2 separate regions of the Homo sapiens genome follow, and region 1 is linked to region 2. Evidence: fine-mapped expression QTL. A gene starts in region 2. The other region holds a variant in brackets. All regions are shown on one strand. Distances are from middle to middle.

The links.
Region 1: its variant is fine-mapped to the expression of CHMP2A in monocytes after interferon gamma (Fairfax 2014, PIP 0.95).

What each region holds. Positions count from the first base shown.
Region 1 is chr19:58,491,501-58,504,195 of GRCh38, forward strand. SLC27A5 (solute carrier family 27 member 5) reads right to left here. Exons shown (of 10, transcript NM_012254.3): 4 at 9,786-9,910; 5 at 9,012-9,206; 6 at 8,839-8,929; 7 at 7,992-8,190; 8 at 7,623-7,720; 9 at 7,285-7,415; 10 at 6,833-7,191. The coding sequence ends at 7,015. LOC105372485 (a long non-coding RNA gene) reads left to right here and starts at 8,011. Exons shown (of 2, transcript XR_001754024.2): 1 at 8,011-9,228. RefSeq lists enhancers at 8,059-8,118, 8,179-8,388. The variant A/G (reference allele first, on the strand shown) is at 5,392.
Region 2 is chr19:58,550,517-58,561,272 of GRCh38, forward strand. CHMP2A (charged multivesicular body protein 2A) reads right to left here and starts at 4,589. Exons shown (of 6, transcript NM_014453.4): 1 at 4,472-4,589; 2 at 3,529-3,720; 3 at 1,743-1,922; 4 at 1,539-1,669; 5 at 1,390-1,451; 6 at 1,050-1,260. The coding sequence starts at 3,696. The coding sequence ends at 1,133. It overlaps TRIM28 (tripartite motif containing 28), which reads left to right. Exons shown (of 17, transcript NM_005762.3): 17 at 1-199. The coding sequence ends at 37. UBE2M (ubiquitin conjugating enzyme E2 M) reads right to left here and starts at 8,095. Exons shown (of 6, transcript NM_003969.4): 1 at 7,757-8,095; 2 at 6,547-6,641; 3 at 6,376-6,414; 4 at 6,171-6,274; 5 at 5,800-5,863; 6 at 5,196-5,713. The coding sequence starts at 7,865. The coding sequence ends at 5,573. MZF1-AS1 (MZF1 antisense RNA 1) reads left to right here and starts at 8,670. Exons shown (of 6, transcript NR_027334.2): 1 at 8,670-8,893. RefSeq lists enhancers at 4,588-4,677, 4,748-4,817, 5,212-5,895, 8,450-8,709, 8,855-9,451 and a silencer at 8,020-8,319.

The DNA.
Region 1 (12,695 bases), 58 kb before region 2:
CCTCCTACTACAGCAGATGCCAAAGGGCACTGGGCATGGTGTGGGGGTCAGTTCACTTTCACACAGGGCTTGTGTTTTCCGTGGTCTCGGCAACACCAACAGTGTCTGAACATGACTGCACAGACATTGGTGCCCGCCGCTGCTTGTGAGCTCCAAGACCATCTCTCCTTCTGTGGGTGCCCCACTTATCTCACTTTTTGACCCCTCCCCAGGTCTCTGGAACCCTCTCTTCAGTCTTGACTTCCTGCTGGCCTGTCTGGACCAGGTCTGTCAGTCCTACTCCCCAGCACCAGATGGGCCCTAAGAATCCCCCTCCTGCCACACCTGCTATTTCCTCATATCCAGCCTCTCAGGCTACGATCACCACGCCACCCTTCCAGAAGGTTCCTTCCAACCGCCCTTCCGAAAAGGCCCTCTCCATGGCCCTCTTGTCAATGACTCACTCCCAGCATGGACAGCAGAGACGTGACCCACACCTCTAACCCATGAGGCTCTGCCCAGCCCTCCCTGGACATGTCAGAAAACAGAGAGACCCTAGTCACTGTGGGTCCAGAGGCAGGACCAGCAGCCACGTCCATGCCTTTTCAGAGCACCCTCACCAGGGTAAGGCAAGTTCTAGCAAGGCAGAGAGGGATCTGTGTGAGGAGGTACCTCTCATTACCACCACTGTTAATCATCATTGACTTATTCATTCATAGAGAAAAAGTCATCTTGAACCATCAAACCCGAGAGCATAATGTCGGATACGGAAAGTCGGTGGGAGAAGTCATCTGTCATTAGGGGTGGGAGCGGGGAACTTAACACGGGCATCCAGGAAAAGGCAGGATGAGAAGAAACCGTGGACTTGGTAAAGTCTGTAAGAAACGTCACCATCTGAGCCATCGCTACAGCATCTGCCTGTATTTCTCACATGCTTACATGAAAGGCATTATTTATTCACTTGGACAACAAAGGCTGCTTTTCGTGAGAGTCACTGGTCCTCCCATGAGGGCATCCACCGATACTTCAAGAATCCTTCCTGGGGCCGGGCACAGTGGCTCACGCCTGTAATCCCAGCACTCTGGGAGGCTAAGGGGGGGGCGGATCACGAGGTCAAGAGATCGAGACCATCCTGGGTAACACGGTGAAACCTCGTCTGTACTAAAAAATACAAAAAAAAAAAAATTAGCCAGGCGTGGTGGCGGGCGCCTGTAGTCCCAGCTACTCAGGAGGCTGAGGCAGGAGAATGGCGTGAACCTGGGAGGCGGAGCTTGCAGTGAGCCGAGATTGCGCCACTGCACTCCAGCCTGGGAGACAGAGCTAGACTCCATCTCAAAAAAAAAAAAAAAAAAAAAAAAAAAGGAAGAAAGAAAGAAAGAAACAATCCTTCCTAGGACAGTGAATCACTCCTATAATCCCAGCACTTTGGGAAGCTGAAGCAAGACGATCGCTTAAGCCCAGGAGTTCGAGACCAGCCTGGGTAACACAGTAAGATCCCAACTCTACAAAAGAAAATATGTTTTTTTTAATTAGCAAGGCATGATGGTGCATGCCTGCAGCCCCAGCTACTGGGGGGGATCACTTGAGCCTAGGAGGTCAAGGGTGCAGTGAGCGATGATGGTGCCACTGCACTCCAGCCTGGGTGACAGAGCGAGACCCTATCTCAAAAAAGAAAAAAAAAAACAAAAAAACCAGTCCCCACACTAGCAGCCACCCATAAGAATATAAAGAAAGCATGGTGCCCTCCACCACCTTTTACTTCTATACCTAACCAGCAATTTTGGGGGGAAAAGACATAAATGGGAAAGAGTTCTGACACATGACTAGCTAAGAAGGTTTTGAAATAAAAGTAAAGAGTAGGAATTCCGCCAGGTGCAGTGGCTCACACCTGTAATCCCAGCACTTTGGGAGGCCGAGGCAGGTGGATCACCTGAGGTCAGGGGTTCGAGACCAGCCCGGCCAACATGGTGAAACTCCATCTCTACTAAAAATACAAAAATTAGCCAGGAGTGGCGGCATACACCTATAATCCCAGCTACTCAGGAGGCTGAGGTGGGGGAATCGCTTCAACTTGGGAGGCAGAGGTTGCGGTGAACTGAGATCAAGCCACTGCACTCCAGCTTGGACAACAGAGAGAGACTCCTTCTCAAAAAAAAAAAAAAAAAAAAAAAAAGAGAGAAAGAAAAAGAAAAAAAAAAAAAAAAAAAAAATATATATATATATATATATATATATATATATATATATTACAAGCCTATGCTAATTACAGCAGCTTGGGACAGGAGAAACAGAAAGACTTATAGAATGAAATTAAGAATACGCTGGGTGTGGTGGCTCACGCCTGTCATCCCAGCACGTTGGGAGGCCAAGGCGGGCAGATCACCTGAGGTCAGGAGTTCGAGACCAGCCTGGCCAACATAGTGAAACCCCATCTCTACCAAAAAAATGCAAAAATTAGCTGAGCCTGGTGGCACATGCCTGTAATCCCACCTACTCAGGAGGCTGAGACAGGAGCATCACTTGAACCTGGGAGGCAGAGGTTGCAGTGAGCCCAGATTGTGCAACTGTACTCCAGCCTGGGTGACAGAGTGAGACTACGTCTCAAAAAAAAAAAAAAAAAAGGGTGCAGTGGCTCACACCTGTAACCCCAGCACTTTGGGAGGCCGACGTGGGTGGATCACGAGGTCAAGAGTTCAAGACCAGCCTGGTCAAGATGGTGAAACCCCGTCTCTACTAAAAATACAAAAATTAGTCAGGTGTGGTAGTGTGTGCCTGTAATCCCAGCTACTCAGGAGGCTGAGGCAGGAGAATCACTTGGTTCCGGGAGGCGGAGTTTGCAGTGAGCCAAGATAGTGCCACTGCACTCCAGCCTAGGCAACAAGAGTGAGACTCCATCTCAAAAAAAAAAAAAAAAAAAAAGAAGAATAAAATGTGTGTCACCAGCCCCCAGCACATCCCCTCCACAATAGTAGAGTGTAGGGTAGGGCTCTGCCTGCTCATTTCGCCCCAGGAGGCCAACCCTCCCTGATAGTCCAGGATATTTTTGGAAAAAAAAAAAAAAGGTGCTTTTCCGTCTCCCCAAGATCCTCAAGTTCAACTAGACATTTCCTATATAAATGTTTTGTTCTGCCTGTTCATTTTGGTGGGTGCCCTTTTCTCCCTTCCCCACCACCCGTGCTCCTCCCAGTCTGCCCCTGGCCTCCAGCCCTGAGGATCAGTTGAGGTAGGGTCCCTGGTATTCCGTACCCTCCTCCCTTTGTTTCTGTTGGTTGTCACTCCTGCTGAATGTATTGCTTTTTAATACTGTACTGCAGGTTTTTTTTAAATAAAATTGTTTGGAAAGTAAAAGAGAAAAGGAATAACGTGTGTGATATATTGAATAAAAAACACTTCATAGATCTGTAGTCTAGTGGGGGAATAAGAAAAAGTTTTAAAATTTTTATTTATTTTAGAGACAGGGTCCTGCCTCTGTTGCCCAGGCTGGATGGAGTGCAGCAGCACAATGATAGCTCACTGTTACCTCAAACTCCTGGGCTTAAGCCATCCTCCTGCCTCAGCCTGCCCAGTAGCTAGGACTAAAGGTGCACAATACCACTCCTGGCTAATTTTTTTACTTTTAATTTTTTTTCTAGAGACGTGGTCTCACTATGTTGCCCAGGCTGATCTTGACCTCCTAGGGTGAAGTGGTCCTCCGACCCTGGCCTCCCAAAGTGCTAGGATTACAAGCATGAGCCACTGCACCCAGCCAAAAATTATATTATTATTTAAATTTATTTATTTATTTATTTTTATTTTATTTTTTGAGACGGAGTCTCGCTCTGTCGCCAGGCTGGAGTGTAGTGGTGCAATCTCAGCTCACTGCAACCTCTGCCTCCCCAGCTCAAGAGATTCTCCTGCCTCACCCTCCCGAGTAGCTGGGACTACAGGCATCCGCCACCACACCCAGCTAATTTTTTGTATTTTTAGTAGAGACGGGGTTTCACCATGTTGGCCAGGCTGGTCTCGATCTCTTGACCTCATGATCCACCCACCTTGGCCTCCCAAAGTGCTGGGATTTCAGGCCTGAGCCACCGCGCCCGCCTATTTATTTTTTCTGAGACGGAGTCTTGCCCTGTCACCCAGGCTGCAGTGCAATGGCGCCATCTCAGCTCACTGCAACTTTTACCTTCTGAGTTCAAGTGATTCTCCTGCCTCAGCCTCCTGAGTAGCTGGGATTACAGGCATGCACCACCACACCTGGCTAATTTTTTGTATTTTTAGTAGAGACGGGGTTTCACTATGTTGGCCAGGCTGGTCTCAAACTCCTGACCTCATGATCCACTCACCTCGGCTTCCCAAAGTGCTGGGATTACAGGCGTCAGCCACTGCACCCAGCCTCAAAAATTATTATTATTATTTTGAGACAGACTCTCAGCTCTGTTGCCTAAAGTGGAGTGCAGTGGTGCAATCTTGGCTCACTACAACCTCCACCTCCCAAGTTCAAGCGATTCTCCTGCTTCAGCCTCCTGAGTAGCTGGGATTACAGGTGCATACCACCACACCCAGCTAATCAAATATTATTTTTTAATCCTTGCAAATGTAATAGCAAAAACTATGAATGCCCCAAGCTAGCTAGGGCTTAGGGAGGCACGGATTTGTATAAAGTGCTGGTGAACTTGTAAAGCTGAGGATCCACAGTGAGATATTTCTACAACATCCACACCCTCTGATCCAACACCTGCAACAATGGGCTTGGCAAGTAACTCATGGGGAAAGCACCTCTCTTGGCTGGGGCTTCCTCAACTATGGTGGGAGCAACACAACACAACTCATCCCATGAGATGTGGTGAAGATATCAGCTCTAGGCCAGGCACAGTGGCTCACACCTGTAATCCCAGCACTCTGGGAGGCCGAGGTGGGAGGATCATGAGGTCAGGAGATCTAGACCATCCTGGCTAACACGGTGAAACCCCCTCTCTACTAAAAATACAAAAAGAAAGCCGGGCGTGGTGGCGGGCACCTGTAGTCCCAGCTACTCAGGAGGCTGAGGCAGGAGAGTGGCATGAACCCGGGAGGCGGAGCTTGCAGTGAGCTGAGATTGCACCATTGCACCACAGCCTCGGTGATAGAGCGAGACTCTGTCTCAAAAAAAAAAAAAGTATCAGCTCTAGCCTGGCCCCAGGTGAGTCCACAAGGGTTATTCTTCTTTTTTTCCCACTATACTAACAAGGACGTGAGGGTTCTTTTTTTTTTTTTTTTTTTTTTTTGAGACGGAGTCTCACTCTGTCACCCAGGCTGGAGGAGTATGAAGGAACTGGACAACCTACTGTGTGCGTGGGAGGATCCAAGTCCAGTTGTATGAAAGGGCCAGGGCTCTTCAGGGAACATGTGGGGCTCCACTGGCCACACAGGGCACAGAAATAGCAAGTCACA[A/G]CAACTATCACTTCGCAGAAGAGAATTACAGTGCACGGCCACCACCAATGACAAACAGATGCTCATAGTGGGACCCCAACTGAAAAGGATACTGTCTCAGCTCCAGGCTGCAGGGCTGACAGGAAGAGCCTCGAATGCTACCAGGAACTCTGTGAAGCCCAGCTGCCTCACAGCCCACGTGGGGTGCTGCCTGCACTGCTCCCTTCGAAGGCTAGTTCTGTCTCAAAGTGGCCCATAGCCTGATGAGGAGGCTGAGGCACGGGAGAGCACAGTATTGTGCCAAACCCCTACTGACTCCAATGGGGACGGCACCAGGTTCAAGAGGCCGAAGAAGAGACTAAGAGCCAGCAAACAAGATGTAGGGTTTTACTGGGGGCTTACATACCGGGGAGAGTCCAGGGGCGGTGGGCTGGGCAGGAGAACCACTTGCAAAAAGCATGCAGTTTATATGGCATTTTCACTTAACATCCTCCCCCTGGCAACCTTCATTTAACTGAAAGCAAAAGGCCAGGATCCCTTATACCACCAGCATTCCATGGGACAGGGCTAAGGACCCAGATGTTCCTCAAAAATAAGGAATGAATCTCTGAGATTCCTTAGCTGGGAACTCTGAACCACACTCAGGTGCGTCTGCCACACAGGGCCATTCTCAGGTGTGCTTAAGCATTGCTGTGGGGTGTGTTTACTATGCACACGAGAAGGGATGGGCAGGGTCGCAGTCTGCAGCACTGCCCACGGACAGCCCTTTGCATATGGCGTTTACTGCTGTGGGGTTCCTTTTCTCACCATCATCACCCCAGCTGTGCTCCCAAAGTTAACCCATGGACCACCGGCCTGGCACCACCACAACTGTTCCAGTGTCTGTAGCCTCACCTTCAGTTCCTACTGGGCCGAGAAGCCTTGGAGGCAGAGGCTCAGCACCCACACACCCCCACCTACATCTCCACTAGGCTTCGGGTAGCAGGTCCAACTCCTGAGACTGTGCAGACTCCCATTTTCCAGAGGCCTCTGCTCCCACTGCTCCCCACCTACAAAGCTTGCCCCAGGGCCTCTACACGTGCCGTTCACAGTGCCAGGGACACTCCTCCCCCAGTTACCTCCTGCTTGCCCTTCTAGCCTCAGTCCAGCAACCTCCAGGCTTTGTCAGATTGTGTATCCACAGCACTTCACAGGGGAGTTATCCACATCCACTGGCCCAGCCACCGCCTCAGTGGCCCACCAAAGACCCACAGATGAGAATCAGAGTTCTCATCTCTCTACCTCAGAGCAGCTGCGAGGCTGGCCAGCTCCTCCCACACCCTTGGCGTTACACAGACAGGGTCATCCCACAGGGATGGCTGAGGTTCTTTGCTGGGAGACAGGGAAGACCCTAAAATAAGGTCTTCAGGGCACTAGCCCCTGCACTCCTCCATTGCTCCTTCATCCACGCAGACATACAGACTTCTGTGAACACATCTGAGTTTATTCTGCCACTGCTACAGGGCCCACTGTCATTTCCAGCCCACTGAGGTTGAGGGTATGGCCAGGCTGGGATTCACACAGGCCCAGGATGAAAGGGACACCGAGTGTGTTGGGGTGGGGGTGGCTGGCTTTGATCCCTACCCCAGTGGGTTGGCCAGGTGATCAGAGCCTCCAGGTTCCCTCACACACAGCCTGGTACATTTCTGCCGTCAGGGGCCGGAAGGACTGGGCCCGGTTGTCCAGTACAAACAGAGGGTCAACCACGATCCCCACATTGAAGCCCTCACGCACCAACCGGGTCTTCATCAGTTTGAACGTGCTGGTGACCTCCATGGCGTCCTGCAGGGCAGTGACCATGGTCCAATCACTGTGACATCCACCCGCCCCCTGGCTATGATCTTCCACCCACCCACCAGGCCACCCTGGGCTCACCTGGATGCGGATGAAATGGGGGGTAGCGTAGGCAGGGAGCCAAGCGCGAACGTGCTGGTACAACTTCTCCCCGTCGAAAGTCTGGCCGGGGGCTAGCTGCACAGCAGCCATGCCCACCTTACCCTCACAACCTAGAGAGCAGTCTGGTCACTCTCGGCTGACCCATCTCGAGGGCCCATAGCTGACCCTCCAGCCTCGCCCAGCTCTGCTCACTGGCTGTGAGAGCCAGCAAGTCTCTAAACCTCTCTGGGCCCTAGCACTTCCCCACCTGTAAAATCAGAATAACGACCCCTCCACCCACAAAGCTGTTGGAAGTTTAAAATGAGAACCCTCCGCACCTGGCACGCACACGCCATACACGTTAACCTGTTGCAAGAAGTCCACCTGCGACAACACGCCCTCCACCTCGTGCGTGGACACGTTCTCGCCCTTCCATCTGCAAGGAGGGAGCCGGCGCTTGTGACCACGCCCCCGGGAAGGAGAGGCCCCGCCTCTTGCCCCCGCCCCGCCCCTTTTGGGGATCAGGAGGCCCAGTCAGCCCCGCCCCCTCGAAAATCGAGAAGCCCCGCCTTCGCGTGAGAAGTCCTGACTCCAAGTTCCGCCCTCTTACGACAGGAAAGTCCCGCCTCTTCAGCCTGACTCCCTCTAGGATCTGAAAGCGTCCGTGGCCCCGCGCCAGCCCCGCCCCGAGAAACCCTGCCTCGGACCGGAAGGTGTCCCCGAGGCGGTCGCGGAAGTAGAGGAAGCCTTCGCGGTCCATGGCCAGTACGTCCCCGGTGTTGTAGTAAACGTCGCCCGATTGCCGCACGTTGCGCACCAGCTTCCGTTCCGACAGCTCTCGGGGGCCGCGGTAGCCCACGAAGGGTTGCTGGCTTACCACCTTGGTCAGCAGCAGCCCCGGCTCCCCTGGGGTAGGAGCAGGAACAAGAACCCCTGGAGCCCACCAGCCAAGCCCCCTGCTGGAGGTTTTCAACAACGGTGGACTCTTCATCACCCAGCACCCTGCCAAGGACAGACCCAAAGACACAGACAGGGAGATCCAGAGATGAGAGAGACATTCAGAGACCTTGAGAGACTGCGACAAGCGACACAGAAAATGAGAGAGAAGTATAGAGAAGGCGGTATGGGGAGCCCATGAGAAACAGGAAAAGGATAACAAGGGATGGAAGACGGACAGACAAATGGCAGTGAGAATAGATATGACCAGGACCTTGCAAGGCCCTGGGAGAAGACACTAACAGAAGGTACAGGACAAGGGACCAATGGCTGGAATGCCGTCTTCCACAGAAAGCTCAAGAGAACAAATCAGATGGACACCCAGAGACCCAGTAAATCAGAGCAAGAGATCAAGGCAGGGGAGCTGGACAGAGCCGAGAAGCTGAGGCGGAGGCCCCAGATGGTGGTAAGGCAGGCCACTGGCTCAGGGTCCAGATGAAGGCTGCAGACCCCTCTAGTGAGCACCAACGTCAAGCTTTTGAGCAGCTCGTTCCAGCCAAGCAGAAGACTGAGGGTCGCCACCCCTGCCACCCAGGAAAGGCTCCTCAACCCCCATACCTAGCCCTACAGGGATGCAGAAGCCCTGATTGTCCCTCACAGGCTCCGCCGCCTCCATGTCGAACTGCACCAGCTCAAAGGGGGACAGCATCTGGGGTGGAGGGTGGAGTGTTGACATAGGTCCTGTGGGCTCAGCCTCAGGGCAGCTGCACACCAGGTACCCGCACACTCACTCGGAGGAGGCAGCTCATCTTGCCCAGGGCCCCGCAGCGCCCCACATAGTTGACTAAGCCCATGTTGCCTTCTGTGGAGCCGTAGACTTCCCAGATCCGAATAGGACCGAAGCGCTGCTGGAAGGTCTCCCACACATCAGCCCGTAGTCCATTGCCCATTGCCAGGCGGACTGTATGTGTCCGGTCCTCTGGTTGCTACAGGAATGTCCCCAGAAGGGTGAGGAGGAGGTGCTCTTGGGGCATGCCTTGGAACCTTTACCTAGAGGGGGTGTTATCCTGGGTCCTTACCTTGGGAGTTACCTGGAAGGTGATGGGGGACCTCTACCTAAGGGATCTACCTGGGTTACTTACATGAGAGTAGTTACTGGAGTCTTAAATAGAGGGTTACCTGCAGGGGCGACCTCAGAGCTTTGCCTGGGGGACGTTACCAGAGGTGACTGGAGGCCTCATCTGGGGTCTCACCTAAGAGTAGTTACCTAGAACTTTAATTTAATGGAAATTTAATTTTAATTAATTAATTTTTAATGGAAATTCTCATGATAGGGGTAGGGGCTATTATCCCTGTTTTCCAAATGAGGACACTGAGGCTCAAGGTAGCACAGCTATCAAAGAAACCATTATTGGAAGCCTTGTCTGAAACTCATTATCTGGGGTTCTTGCATGAGGTGTATTATCTGAGGGACTTGAGTTCAGTACCTGAATCTTTACCTGAGACCTTTACCTGGGATTTCATACTTGGGTGTTCACCATGGAGCCCTAATCTTAGAGCCTCACCTGGGGAATGTTACACAAGTACCGCAGGAGCTCGCCCACATACAGGATCACTGTCACGCCATGCTGCCGACAGTCATCCCAGAAGCAGGAAGTAGAGAACTTGGGGGCCAGAACACAGGTGGCTCCTGGGAGATGACAGGAGAGGGGGTTTCAGGTCATGCTTCCAAATTGTTGTAAGAAGCTGCTTTTAGCACCTGTGCTCACCCACCCCCACACCCTGAAATACAGGACAATACTGAGTTCATCTTTGTGTCCTTGGCCCAGCCAGGACTGCTCTCACTAGAAGAGCATAGGCAGGCCTGGGTTCAAATCCTGTCTCCAGGATGCCGGGAAAGCTCCGTGCCTGTTATAAAGTGAGCAATGCTAAATAAGGGCTGTAAATATTAAATTTTTTATTTTTATTTTTGAGACGGAGTCTCGCTCTGTTGCCCAGGCTGGAGTGCAGTGGTGCAATCTCCGCTCACTGCAACCTCTCCCTCCCGGGTTCAAGCGATTCTCCTGCCTCAGCTTTCTGAGTTGCTGGGATTACAAGCACCCGCCACCACAGCTGGCTAATTTTTGTACTTTTTTAAGTACAGACGGGGTTTCACCATGTTGGCCAGGCTGGTCTTGAACTCCTGACCTTTCAGGTGATCCACCCGCCTCGGCCTCCAAAGTGCTGTGATTACAGGCATGAGCCTCTGTGCCCAGCCACATTTTTAATTTTTATTTTGGCTTGTCACTGACTCGAAGCTCAAATCACTCTTGATTACGATAAATGAATGCCCAGCTAAGCAGATGGGTGGGCAGGTGGATGGATATGGTGGATGGATGGAAAGATGAATGGATGGACAGTTAGAGTAGTGAGTGAGTAGATGGGTGGGTGGACAGAGTAGTGAGTGAGTAGATGGATGGGTGAACAGTTAGAGTAGTGAGTGAGTAGATGGATGGGTGGACAGTTAGAGTAGTGAGTGAGTAGATGGATGGGTGACAGAGTAGTGAGTGAGTAGATGGATGGGTGAACAGTTAGAGTAGTGAGTGAGAAGATGGATGGGTGAACAGTTAGAGTAGTGAGTGAGTGGATGGATGGGTGGACAGTTAGAGTAGTGAGTGAGTAGATGGATGGGTGGACAGAGTAGTGAGTGAGAAGATGGATGTGTGGACAGTTAGAGTAGTGAGTGAGAAGATGGATGGGTGAACAGAGTAGTGAGTGAGTAGATGGATGGGTGAACAGTTACAGTAGTGAGTGAGAAGATGGATGGGTGAACAGTTAGAGTAGTGAGTGAGTGGATGGATGGGTGGACAGTTAGAGTAGTGAGTGAGTAGATGGATGGGTGGACAGAGTAGTGAGTGAGAAGATGGATGTGTGGACAGAGTAGTGAGTGAGAAGATGGATGGGTGAACAGTTAGAGTAGTGAGTGAGTAGATGGATGGGTGGACAGTTAGAGTAGTGAGTGAGTAGATGGATGGGTGGACAGTTAGAGTAGTGAGTGAGTAGATGGATGGGTGGACAGTTAGAGTAGTGAGTGAGTAGATGGATGGCTGGACAGTTAGAGTAGTGAGTGAGTAGATGGATGGGTGGACAGTTAGAGTAGTGAGTGAGTAGATGGATGGCTGGACAGTGACATGCAGAGGCAGGGGGGTAGAAAGATGGATAGGTGGCTGGGTGAGGATCGTCACGCCTGTAATCCCAGGACTTAGGGAGGCCGAGGTGGGCGGATCACGAGGTCAGGAGATCAAGACCATCCTGGCTAACACGGTGAAACCCGTCTCTACTGAAAATACAAAAAATTAGCTGGGCGTGGTAGCGGGCGCCTGTAGTCCCAGCTACTCGGGAGGCTGAGGCAGGAGAATGGCGTGAACCTGGGAGGCGGAGCTTGCAGTGAGCCGAGATAGCGCCACTGCACTCCAGCCTGGGCGACAGAGTGAGACTCTGTCTTAAAAAAAAAAAAAAAGAAAAAGAGAAAGATGGATAGGTGTAAGGATGGATAGATGGGTGGGTGGATGAATGAATGAATGAGTGAGGAAGTAGGTGAGTAGGTAGATGGGTGGGTTGGTGAATGTTTGTATGGTTGTATTGACGTATGGACACATGGATTAATAAGATATAGGGGGCTGGGCGTGGTGGCTCACACCTGTTATCCCAACACTTTGGGAGGCTGAGGGGGGTGGATCACCTGAAAGATCAGGAGTTTGAGACCAGCCTAGCCAACATGGTGAAACCCTATCTCTACCAAAAAATGCAAAAATTAGCCAGGCGTGGTGGCGCACACCTGTAGTCCCAGCTACTCGGGAGGCTGAGGTGGAAGAATCGCTTGAACCCAGGAGGGGGAGGCTGTAGTGAGCCGAGCTTACACCACTGCACTCCAGCCTGGGTGACAGAGTGAGACCCTGTCTCAAAAGAAAAAGAAAAAAACTGAATCTAACAACACCTCTAGTTAAAGTTTCCAATTTAACAAGAAATGCAGATGAAAGGGGAACAGAGACCTACAAGCAAATACAATGGGGAGACTGTTTAATTGTTAAAAACAAACAAACAAACAAACAAACAAAAAAACAGCCAATTGGCTGGGCACAGTAGCTCACACCTGTAATCTCAGCACTTTGGGAGGCCAACGTGTTCAGATCACTTGAGGCCAGAAGTTCAAGACCAGACTGGCCAACAGGGCGAAACCCTGTCTTTACTAAAAATACAAAAAAATTAGCTGGGCATGGTGGTCCACACCTGTAATCACAACTGCTCAGGAGGATGAGGCATGAGAATCGTTTGAACCCAGGAGGCAGAGGTTGTAGTGAGCCAACATCACACAACTGTACTCCAGCCTGGGTGACAAAGCAAGACTCTGTCTCTAAAAACAAAACCAAACCAAAACAGCCCATTGGAGAAATCTGAACATAGACTGGACATCATATGATATTAAGGGGTTACAT
Region 2 (10,756 bases):
CCAGGAGCTGTCTGGTGGCCCTGGTGATGGCCCCTGAGGCTGGAGCCCCCATGGCCAGCCCAGCCTGGCTCTGTTCTCTGTCCTGTCACCCCATCCCCACTCCCCTGGTGGCCTGACTCCCACTCCCTGGTGGCCCCATCCCCCAGTTCCTCACGATATGGTTTTTACTTCTGTGGATTTAATAAAAACTTCACCAGTTCCTCAGGCGTTGGCTGGTTGGGGGACTGTGGTCCTGGGGCCTGGTTTATTGACTGTATCTACTAGTCAGCCTTATCAAGCACTGGTGGCACAAGGGAGGGGGGTCTTGTCCCCCACCTATCGAAGCCCATGTGTATGGATGCCTAGGGAGTGGGGAAGACTGCCTCCTTGCCCTTTCTGGGTATGGGGAGGGTCACCCAGGGCAAAGGATGTACACACTAGAGGCTTGTTGGGTACCCTGTGGGATACTGGGTAGGTGTGACCTACATCCCTGTGTAGGCAGGGTTAGCCCCAGGTGTAGCACAGCCACTCTACTGAATGCTTCCTAAATTTTGGTGCTGTAGCTGTTTCTCATCTTCAGAAGGTCCCACAGTGAACTGAGACCTTCCAGATGTGGTTTTTTTCCCTGTCTCCCTTTGCTGAGTCCACTTAACATTATCATTCATCTCTGTGTTATGATTTAGTTACTCTACAGTCGAGCCTGTGTGAATCCCAAGGCCACCCCCTTGCCTCTATTGGTTGGTCTGGACTGTCCTTGAGTGTTGTCATTAAACCATCACTGGACCAAACAGTGTTGGACACTACAGCCTGGCAGATGAGGCCTGGACTCTCAAGATCCTACCAGGGTGTTTGGGCAGTCCAGTATCTTGGGAGAGGTGATGGAGAAGGGCCCACAGCTCACCTGAAGCTCCCAGCTCCTGAAAATCCCAGGTGGACTTTGCTTGTTCACCCCTGCCCCAAACCCCCACCCTTAGCTTAGTACCAAGTGCCTCTTGCCTTAGTGATGCCCATCCTCCCAGGGACCCCAGTCTGGTCCCACATCAGGCCAAAAGTCACATGGGCCTGGAGACTAGTGTCAAATCTCTTTTATTACAGAGGGGTTGTGGTAAAAGATCCTGGGCATCCACTGGTTATCTCGGAGTGGCAGGGGCACTCAGTCCCTCCGCAGGTTCTTAAGCCGTTCCTCCAGGTCTGCATCAGCATCAGCTAGGGCTGAGGCTGCGGCCTCTGCTTTTTTCCCACCAGCAGCCACACTAAGCGAGCCCCCAGTTGAGGGGAGGTCTGCAGAGAAAGTGGGGGTTTGAGCAGGTGGGGTCAGGCAGCGGAGGGGAGTAATGCAGGGAAAGGGAGGGCTTGGAGCTGTGGCTGGGCCTTGGGTGGGAAATGGGGTCCAGGATTTGGAGCACTCACTCGACAGCTCATCTGTTAGGCTAAGTCCCAGCTCATCCAGAACCTGGGACACCACAGCATCACTAGGGAAGAGAGAGAACTCAGTGAGGGCTATGCACTCCGTGAGGGCCAGGCAAACATCTCCACCCTCCCATCCAGTTTCCCCATACCTCTCCTCTTCATCTTCCTCATCACCCATGGCATCATCAATGGCATCATTCATCATCTCCTCCTTCATATCCATGATCTCTGCCTGCCGCTCAAACTCCATCATGATCTTCTGGATCTGGGGCAACTTCAGCTGGAAGTGACAGGAGTGTGAGTGTGATCCCCATGGGTCGTGGGAGTGGGAAGGGGGATTGGGAAAAGCGCACCTGTCTGTTCATGGTGCCCATGGCCTTGGTGACACCCTTCATGGCTTGTGCCATCGAGTTGTTGGACTTGAGTGTCTGGATCTTGAGGGACACAGCCTGGATGTTGGCCCGCATCAATACAAACTTGCGCACATAGCGCCGGGTGCGCACCAAGTCTTTTGCCATGATGCGAACAGCATCCTGCAGAGTAGACAAGGGTATCAAGGACACAGGAATGAGATTATCCTACACTTCTTGACACCCCATTAGTTGGTTGTCCCTCCCCACCAGCCCAATTTGCAATTCCACTTGAAGTTTCCAGAGACTCTGGCTAACCCAATGGTCACTGGTCCCTCCCTCCTTCTGACCTAACCCTCCTCTGCCTCTTGGGCCACCAACTCCCTGGGCTCCTTTGTAAGGTCCTCCTCACTTCTCTTGATCTGTAAATGGTAAAAGAAAGGCCCCAGGCTCACTCCTGAGGGTTCCTTTTCCCTCCATGTTTTCAGTCATTCTTTTGACTTACAACAGCCATTCCTCAATTTTTATTCCCAGCCTAGACAAAGAATCTGTCTCTTCCTTCACCTGATACAAACCCATACCTCGAACTATCCAGAATCACATACAGACCTATCTGAGGCTCAGCTTTTGATTTCCTCTCCAAACATCTTTCTTGCCCATCCCAAGAAATGGTATCTTCTCTGCCTACCTGTTCAGGCCAAAACCCTCTCACCCATCAAAGGCTGTGTTCCTTCTTCATGCTCTCCCTACTGGTTCCGGCTGTCTCTTACCAGCCTCTTGGCCATAGCTTATAGCTTACCCTTACCTTTTTTTTTTTTTTGAGTTGGAGTCTTGCTTTGTTGCCTAGGCTGGAGTGCAGTGGCACAATCTTGGCTCACTGCAAACTGTGCCTCCCGGCCTCAAGCGATTCTTCTGCCTCAGCCTCTCGAATAGCTGGGATAACAAGTATGCACCACCATGCCCGGCTAATTTTTGGTAGAGTGGGGTTTTGCCATGTTGGCCAGGCTGGTCTCGAAATCCTGACCTCAGGTGATCCACCCACCTCAGCCTCCCAAAGTGCTGGGATTACAGGCTTGAGCCATCATGCCGGGCCAGCTTATCCTTATAGTTAACTGGTTTTTTTTTTTTTTTTTGAGACAGAGTCTCGCTCTGTCACCCAGGCTGGAGTGCAGTGGCATGATCTTGGCTCACTGTAACCTCCGCCTCCTGGGTTCAAGAGATTGTCCTGCCTCAGCCCTGCTGAGTAGCTGGGATTACAGGCGTGCGCCACCATGCCTGGCTAGTTTTTTTTATTTTCAGTAGAGACGGGGTTACTCTGTGTTGGTCAGGCTGGTCTCGAAGTCCTGACCTCAGGTGATCCAACCACCTCTGCCTCCCAAAGTGCTGGGATTACAGGTCTCTGAGCTACTGCGCCCGGCCCTGTAATCCCTAACCTTCCAACTTAGCTCCCACTTTGGCCCAGAGTTCTGAATTGTCTGGTCCATGCCCAACTCTTGAAGCTCACCTGTCATCTCCCATTTTTTTGAGGCTCTTTTTTAACATTTGCTGCTCTGTCTGCTTAACACATTCCCTGCCCAGATCTGTAGGCTCACTCTCATCACTCAAGCCTTGGATCTCATACCAGTTCCTTGGAGGCAGCCTTCCAGACCCTCAAACTAGGGAAGCCCTGCTGACCTTTCACTCCACTCGTTTTGCTGAAAGCACCTGTGTTTGGTGTCTGGTCTCTCTTGTTCACTGCTGTTAGAGCCGTGCCTGATTGACAGCAACCTGCCCGACCACCCACACTCACCATCTGGCCTTGCTTGGCCATCTTCTTAATGTCTGCAATGATTTTCTTCTCCTGGGTCTCTAGTTTCTGTCGCTCGCGGTCCAGCTCCCGCATGGCACGGTTCAGGGCCCTCTGGTTCTGCCGCAGTAGCTCCTCTGGCGTCTTCCGGCGCCCGAACAATAGGTCCATGATGGTAGAAGCTCACTGGCAGGCCTGAGACAGATGTGAGTGAGGCCCAGTTGTAGGGCATGGGGCCCAGGAGGGCAAGAAGCAGAACAGGGTCACGGGAGCCTTGCCAAATGGGAAGGGGCTAACGGAGACTGGAGGCAGGAATGAGGAGCCAAAAGGGAGCAGCTGAGAACACTGGGATTGTCCCGGGGACACATAAAGGGGGACAGGTAGACCTGAAAATTATCCAAGTGCTGGCCCGAGCCCCTCCTTCATCGCCATGCCCCAAAAGAAGTTATGGCTTGCAAGTTCAGCTTCCCTCTCCAGAACTATGGGTGAGGCCCTGGAGTCCTTGATACGACTGAGAGCGGGGGATGACGCGGGCCGGTGCACTGGTGTTTTGGAGACTGTGGGCACCGAGGACAGAGCAATTGTGGGGGTTCTGATAGAGGAGGACAGGATGGGCGGAAACGCTAAGTACCAAGAACAGGTGAATGTGGGGCTGTGAAGCTCAGGACAAGGCATTAGGATTTGGGGACCCTGAATGCTGAGGGAGACGGTTGGGGGCGCTGGGGCATCCTGTACACTGAGGACGGGATGATGGAGATTCGGTCGCACTATACACCGAGGACAGTCAGTGGGCCCGGCACCAAAGCAAGGTGGTGTTGGAGACCTCGATGTTGACGACAGGGTCCCAGGGAGAAGCGAGGCACCGGACACCCGGGCGAGTAGAAGGCCTCGTACGCTGCCGCCCGCACGCCCGCCCGGGATCCACGGTCCAGCAGGGGCCACTCACCGGAGCTGGGACGGACACCCGTTTCCGCTTCCGGGTCACGCTTCTCTTTCTGGGATCCCCGACTTGCCCACCAACTAAGGCCCCTCGGTCCTGTCGCCGCCGCCGCCGTTTCCGGATTAAACGACGTGACGTAACATGCCCCGCCCGCACCCGGAAGGTTGGGAAACTCCAGGAGCGCGCGTGCGCCCGTGCCCCGGAACGGGCCAGCGTCCGAGCGCATGCGCAACAGCTCCCGTTTCCTCTGCGCGTCCGAGTGTTTCATGTTTTGAGTCCCGCCCGAGTGACCCAAGCCAGTACCGGGGTGGGCGCTTTCCACCCAACCTCCACTTGAGGACCCAGCTTATTCGTGAGACCTTGACTTCTGCCTGAGGCCTCAGATAGAAGGAGCCTCAGAAGGCTCCTCCTCCTCGGTGGGCCCACCCACACAAGAAAGGGGCAAAGCTAGAGATGGCTTGTTTCTTCCACTTTGCTGGCCTCTTGGCCAGGAAGCCACAGGTCACTGGATCCTGCCTACGCTTCTCATCCTAGAGTAGGCTTCATCCCAACCAACCCCAGGCACAGTCATGGTATCCCCACCAACTTTAGAGCTGCCCCAGGCACTGGGCAGCCTGTTGTAGGGTGCTCCAATGCCACCTGTGACCACACCTTCCACCACCCCAGCTTTGCAGGCCCTAATGGACCTCAGCTGCCCCTCCCACCCCATAGAAGTAAGAAGCAGAGGCCATGCAGTAACATTCCCCTTTAATAGCCTGGTGGGACCTCCAGAGGTGGAGGGGTGGGTTGCCTGGGCCCAGCTACCCAGGCCCGTTGCCCACCCACTCCACAGCCCAGAGTGGGGGCTGAACAAGCACCCAGCAGGGGGGCTAGACAAGCCAATTCATTTCCCATCGCTGAGTGGGTCGGGGGAGGCAGCGCCGACCTTAATCACATGGTGTTAAAAAAAAAAAAATAACTAGGGGCACGTGGCAGGAAGGGGAGGCAAGGCCAAGGCAGGGGATTCCCCCACCGGCCGCCCCCCAAACCCCTACCCATGGCCCCCAATAAATATTTGCAGGGGATGCCAGGGCTTGTGGCCGTGGCGGGGGTGGGTATGCGCCAACCCTATTTCAGGCAGCGCTCAAAGTAGGTGGAGCCGATGTAGCCACCCCGCATGGAGCGCTGCACGTTCTGCTCAAACAGCCGCCGGTTGTTCTGCAGGACCTCTGCGGCCTCCTTGTTCAGTGGGTCCTCGGGGTTGGGCTCCTGTGGCCAGTACAGGTAGGGGGGGTCAACAGGCCAGAGGGACAGAAGGCCAATCTCCCCAGACCCAACCACCTATTCCTACTCACCAAGAAGAGATACTGCAGGCCATAAATTATGGAGTTTATCGTAAGGACTGGCTTCCAGTCCTCTCTGTGGACAGAGAGCATCAGGGTCAGGGCTTGGTGAGTGGGAGACTGCCACAGGCCCCTCTGGTGTTGGGCAGGTCAGATCCAGGGCATAGGAGAGTGAGCATGTGAGAGGCTGGGAGGGAGGGTGTGGAGCAGGACAGGCCAAGGAGAAAACCAAGGTCAGGCCATGAGGAAGATGACTGGGAAATCAAGAAACCACAGACAACAAAGGGGTGGGAAGGGACAGAGTCTGATGTAGTGCCCACAAGACCATGAGGGAGGCCTGGCAGGCAGCGCTGAGGAGGGCATTAGAGGGCCAGTGTCCTCACCTGAGGATGTTGAGGCAGACGTTGCCCTCGAGGTCAATGTTGGGGTGATAGACCATTGTCTCACACTTCACCTTGGGGGGATCATGCGGGTAACCCTGGCCCACCTGGCTCCAGGAAAAGAAAAGAGAGATGGGTAGGTGCCTGGAAGGGCCTCAGCTGCTGCCTCCTCTGTCCAGGGAGCCATCCCTGCCCGCCTGGGACTCACCTTAAAACTGAACACAAACTTCCCACTCTTGTAGAAGCCCTGGGAGGAAAAGGGGGAGAAGAAAATTTTAGGGTTCCATCCTGTGGGGCCCGATGGGCAGAACATGTCTCCCTCCTCTCAGTGGGGACACCCTTGGTTTGCTCCTGGGAATTCAGCCATATGCACCCTCACCTCATCAGGACAGATGACCAGCTTGAAGTTGAGGAGGTCGTCTGGATCTGAGAAGCTGATATCACACGTCTTGGGCAGGTTCAGCTCGTTTATGTCTGGGTTTGGGTAGCAGAGAGTCGGGAACAGAAAGAGGGAGGGGAAGAGAGAGAGAGAGGGAGCCAGCAGGACACTTAGGGCGGGTGTTTGTTAGCAGAGCCCCCATCGTCTCCTCCTGGACCCCCAGGCGCCTCTCCTGGGCTGTGCTCCACACCTCCAGCCCTCTCCCTGCTCCCCAGCTTGGCTCTTGTGGATACACAGCATACCCCAAACATGCATGTTCAGCTGTGTATGCGTGTCCCAACTCCTGGCCCAGGGTGACCCCCAACTTTTCTGTATCCACAGCTCCCAAATGCCCCCACTCCCAAACATCCTCTGACCGCCCTAAACCCCAGGCTCCCCATCCATGACCTCCACTCTACAGTATCTACCTGTTCACCCAAACTCAAAGATCCTGCCCACCCCCACCAACCCTCAGTCCTCACTGTCCTTCCTCTTCTCTGTCTCTCAGACCCAGCTTTCCATGTGACCCCCACACTCTCAAGTCCCCAACCCCCGCCACCCTACCCCACCCCCTCTGACTCTGAGGTTCACAGCACAATAGCCTAAATTTCCCCTCACCCCTGTCTCCAATCCCTGGTACTCATTAACCTTCCCTCCTCCACCTGTCACCCCAAACCCCAAATTGCTGTGACTCAGGCAGGCCCATGAGTCCCTGGTCCTCCAACCTACTTCACCCGTTTGACTCAGAGATTCCCAGAGACCCCAGCATAATAAACTAAATCCTCTTCCACTCATATCCCCAACCCCTGGCCTCTACTATCCCTCTCTTCTCCGCCTGTCACCCCAAACCCAAGTTCCCGTCTAACCCCCAGACTCTCGAGTCGTCAGTTCCTCCACTCCACTGCCTGACTCTGAGATTCCGAGTCCCTAGTAGCAGACACCAGGCCTTCCTAATATCCTAAACCACCACATACCGGGCCCCTATCTCTGACCCCCTCCCCGTGACTGCATGATCCCAACCCTCAAGACTTGACCTCCGACCCCCCCCACGCTCGGGGCCCTTCACCTCTGACCCTCAGCAACCGCATTACCCCTTCCTGACTCCCACATCACCCTGCCTCAGGCCCTGACCTCCGACCTCCGGCTCCAACCCCATCCCCTGACCCCCTACCCTTCTGGATCCGCAGCTGCGCCGCCGACGCCTTCTTGCTGCTGCCCTTGGTGCCGCCCGCCGACTCCTCCTCCTTCTTCTGCTGCTTCAGCGAGAACAGCTTGATCATCCTGCCGCCGCCGCCGCCGCTGCCGCCGCCGCGGGGCCCGGGACCCCGGCCACCCGGCCCCCCGCCGCCGCCCGCGTCGCCTCCGCTCCTCGGACCCGCAGCTGCGGCCTCCTCCGCTGCTGCCGCCACCCGCCCGGCCTGCCGCGCCGCTCCGCTCCTCTCCGCGCCCACCGCGCGGCCCGCCTCGGCTCCCGTAGTCCGGCTCCGGCCTGGCCCAGCGCCTCGGACTCGCTCGGCAGCGCTCGGCCAAATTCGGCTGTTCTCGGGCCCGCCCGGCCCCGCCCCCACTGCCCGGGGCCGCTCCTTCCTTGCCCTCGCCAACTCTGGTCTCAGGCCCCGCTGCAGCTGCGGACTCGGGGCTCCCCCGACCGTGCCGTTTGGCCGCTCAGCTGATCCCTCCGCGAGGGGGTGCGGCTAGGGGTGGGAGGAGGACACGGCAGCTGCGGTGACGGCGGGCGGGTACTGGAGGATCGTCTTCCGCGGCAGCAGCGGCTTTAGCGCGGAGGTCGGCAACGGCCTCGGGCGCCCCGCCGCTTCGGATATTTCCGCCGCCTGCCCGCTTTGGCTCTTCCCGCCCGGCCTGCGTTGTGCGCCTGCGCAGCCGCCGCAAACCCGCGTTGCTCAGCGATGGAGTTTGGGGTTCGGCCTCCTTCGGCTGGACTCGGGCATTTCCGTTCATGGAGATGACGCTTCGGCGGCCTTGCAGGTCACTTCCGGCGACTTTCGCGGGGCCGGGCAGGAAGCGGAGTTAGTCGCCATCTTTGAGTGGGGCAGACGTGGGCCGCTTTTGCTCGCGGTCACTTCATCTTAAGTTGTATATATGTGCAGAGCGCGGCGCGGGTGGTCACCTCCGCTGCTGCCGCCACCCGCCCGGCCTGCCTTTGACCCTATGGGTCACAGACAAGGCAGGGTGATCGCGGCAAGACCCTGAGTGAGACTAGATGCGTTACCCAGAGGGTGCGAGGTCGAGTACCTTCCCTGTCCCATCGCAAACCCAAAGATCCCCGTTCCTGGAGATTCTGATTGAGGTAAACTAACAAAACATGTATTGTGCCAGAGAGTGGTAAGCACTGTGGAGGGTTACAGTGGTGTAGGGGAAGACCTGTCGGGGTGGACACTTGGGGAACGCGACGTGGGGGCGGAATCGGGCCGCTATTGGCGTGGGCCTCAAGTTCCAGCGGACACGCACTGCAGCCTCTGCGCTTCCCCCACTATCTGGAAAAGGGGATGGAGGCGGGGGTCAGCTTCCCATCCAATCACAGCTCAGCGTGCCTCGGAGGGCGGGAGGAAACGGAACTCTGCCGGTCAGCGACTTCCGGCCGTCACCACGGAAACTGCCAGCCCCGTGAGCGCATGGTGTGGCACTTGCCTGCGGAGGGGCCCAGGCGCCACTCCTCTGATTCTGCAGATGCTCCCCCAGGAGTGGCTTCTGGCCAAGGCCAAGCCCCTTCTTTGAAACTGCCTTTCAGCCTGTGTTACCTGCACCCAAGTCACCCACTGGAGGGTTGGGGGAGAGGGGCTGTGTGAAGGACCTGGACAATGGGATGGAAGGGGAAGATGGCTAGGGCAAAACAGGCAATGGCACTGGGTCCTGGAGACGCTGCCCTGAAGCCTGCAGTATGCTGAACTTATGCTCTCAGCATCTGTCCACTTTCACCTAAGCTGCGTTTCCACTGGTTTGCTGCTGAATCTACTCCTGACTGAAACCTTCCAATGTGCATGGGGCCAGGGTGGGAGAAGCCTTCAGCTCTAGCGATGGGAATGATCACCACAGGGCAGGGAAACTGGCCCAGGGCCTGCAGCCTTTGCTTCTCAGACTGGCTGGGGTTCCATCTGCAGGGTCCTACACCCTCATCACCTGCTGCTTGTGAACACGAGAACAGGAAAGTCTTGAAAAATCTGAATTTCCAGGTGAAATCTTCTAGTTTTAAAACTAGGAAATGGTTTCCTAGGTGTAAAGGAGTTTTACAAAGACATCCTGAGGCAGAATCTGGATCACCAGGTGTCAGTTTGCTCCTGCTGGATCGCATAATCTTGGTTGGCTAGGGAGATTCTGGCCTGTCTGGGTCCTTTCCTGGGGTTTGGCTTGGCCCATGGCCCAGGGGACAGCCGTGACAGGGTGTGGAGGGGAGCATGCAGGTTGCAGGCATCAAGTTTAGGCACAGTACCACCCACAAACCTGGGGGTTGGCAGATCCAAGTGGGATCCTTGGCTCCCAGCTGTAAGAAGTGCTGTGACCCCACTGCTTCCCTTTGTTCCTCTAGTACTAAGGGTGAGATGCTGAATGTCCCCATGAGTACAACTCTTCAGCGGGTACTCCTACTGATAGGTAGATAAAGGTAGAAAGCTTTGGCCGCTCAGGACCACTTTAGGGAGTAGGGTGCTGTTAGGGTAAGGGTAGCTGTACAGCTGAGCTGGGGTGGGAGAGGTAGTATCATGGGAATGAATCATTAACGCTGACTTGGAGCAAGGAGGACTGGTGCTCAGGAGGCTGGTAACCTCCCTGAGGATTGAGTGTTCTCCCAGCCCTTGGAGGCCCTGGTCTCAGTGTCAAGGGAAAATCCCATGGGATTTCATCACCAGACAAGGCTGGGCTCCAGACCTACCCACCTAGGCATCACTGTGCAGGGCAGAGACTACAAACACCTCTCTTCACTTGCAGATCTGTTAAGGGCAGGCTGGAACAGGGGTTGGAAAGGGAGAAGAGACTAGGCCAGCACCACCTCTTCCCCTTGGCAACAGCAGGTCCTTCCAGGAGCAACAGTTTTTACATACCTCCCAGAACCAGGCTCACTGGGCCCCTTGGAGACACCCACACCAGTGCCCCCTCAGGAGTCTCCTAGGCCTATGGGGCACCCTCTTGAGAACAGAGACCTCCAGACCAGCTGAGC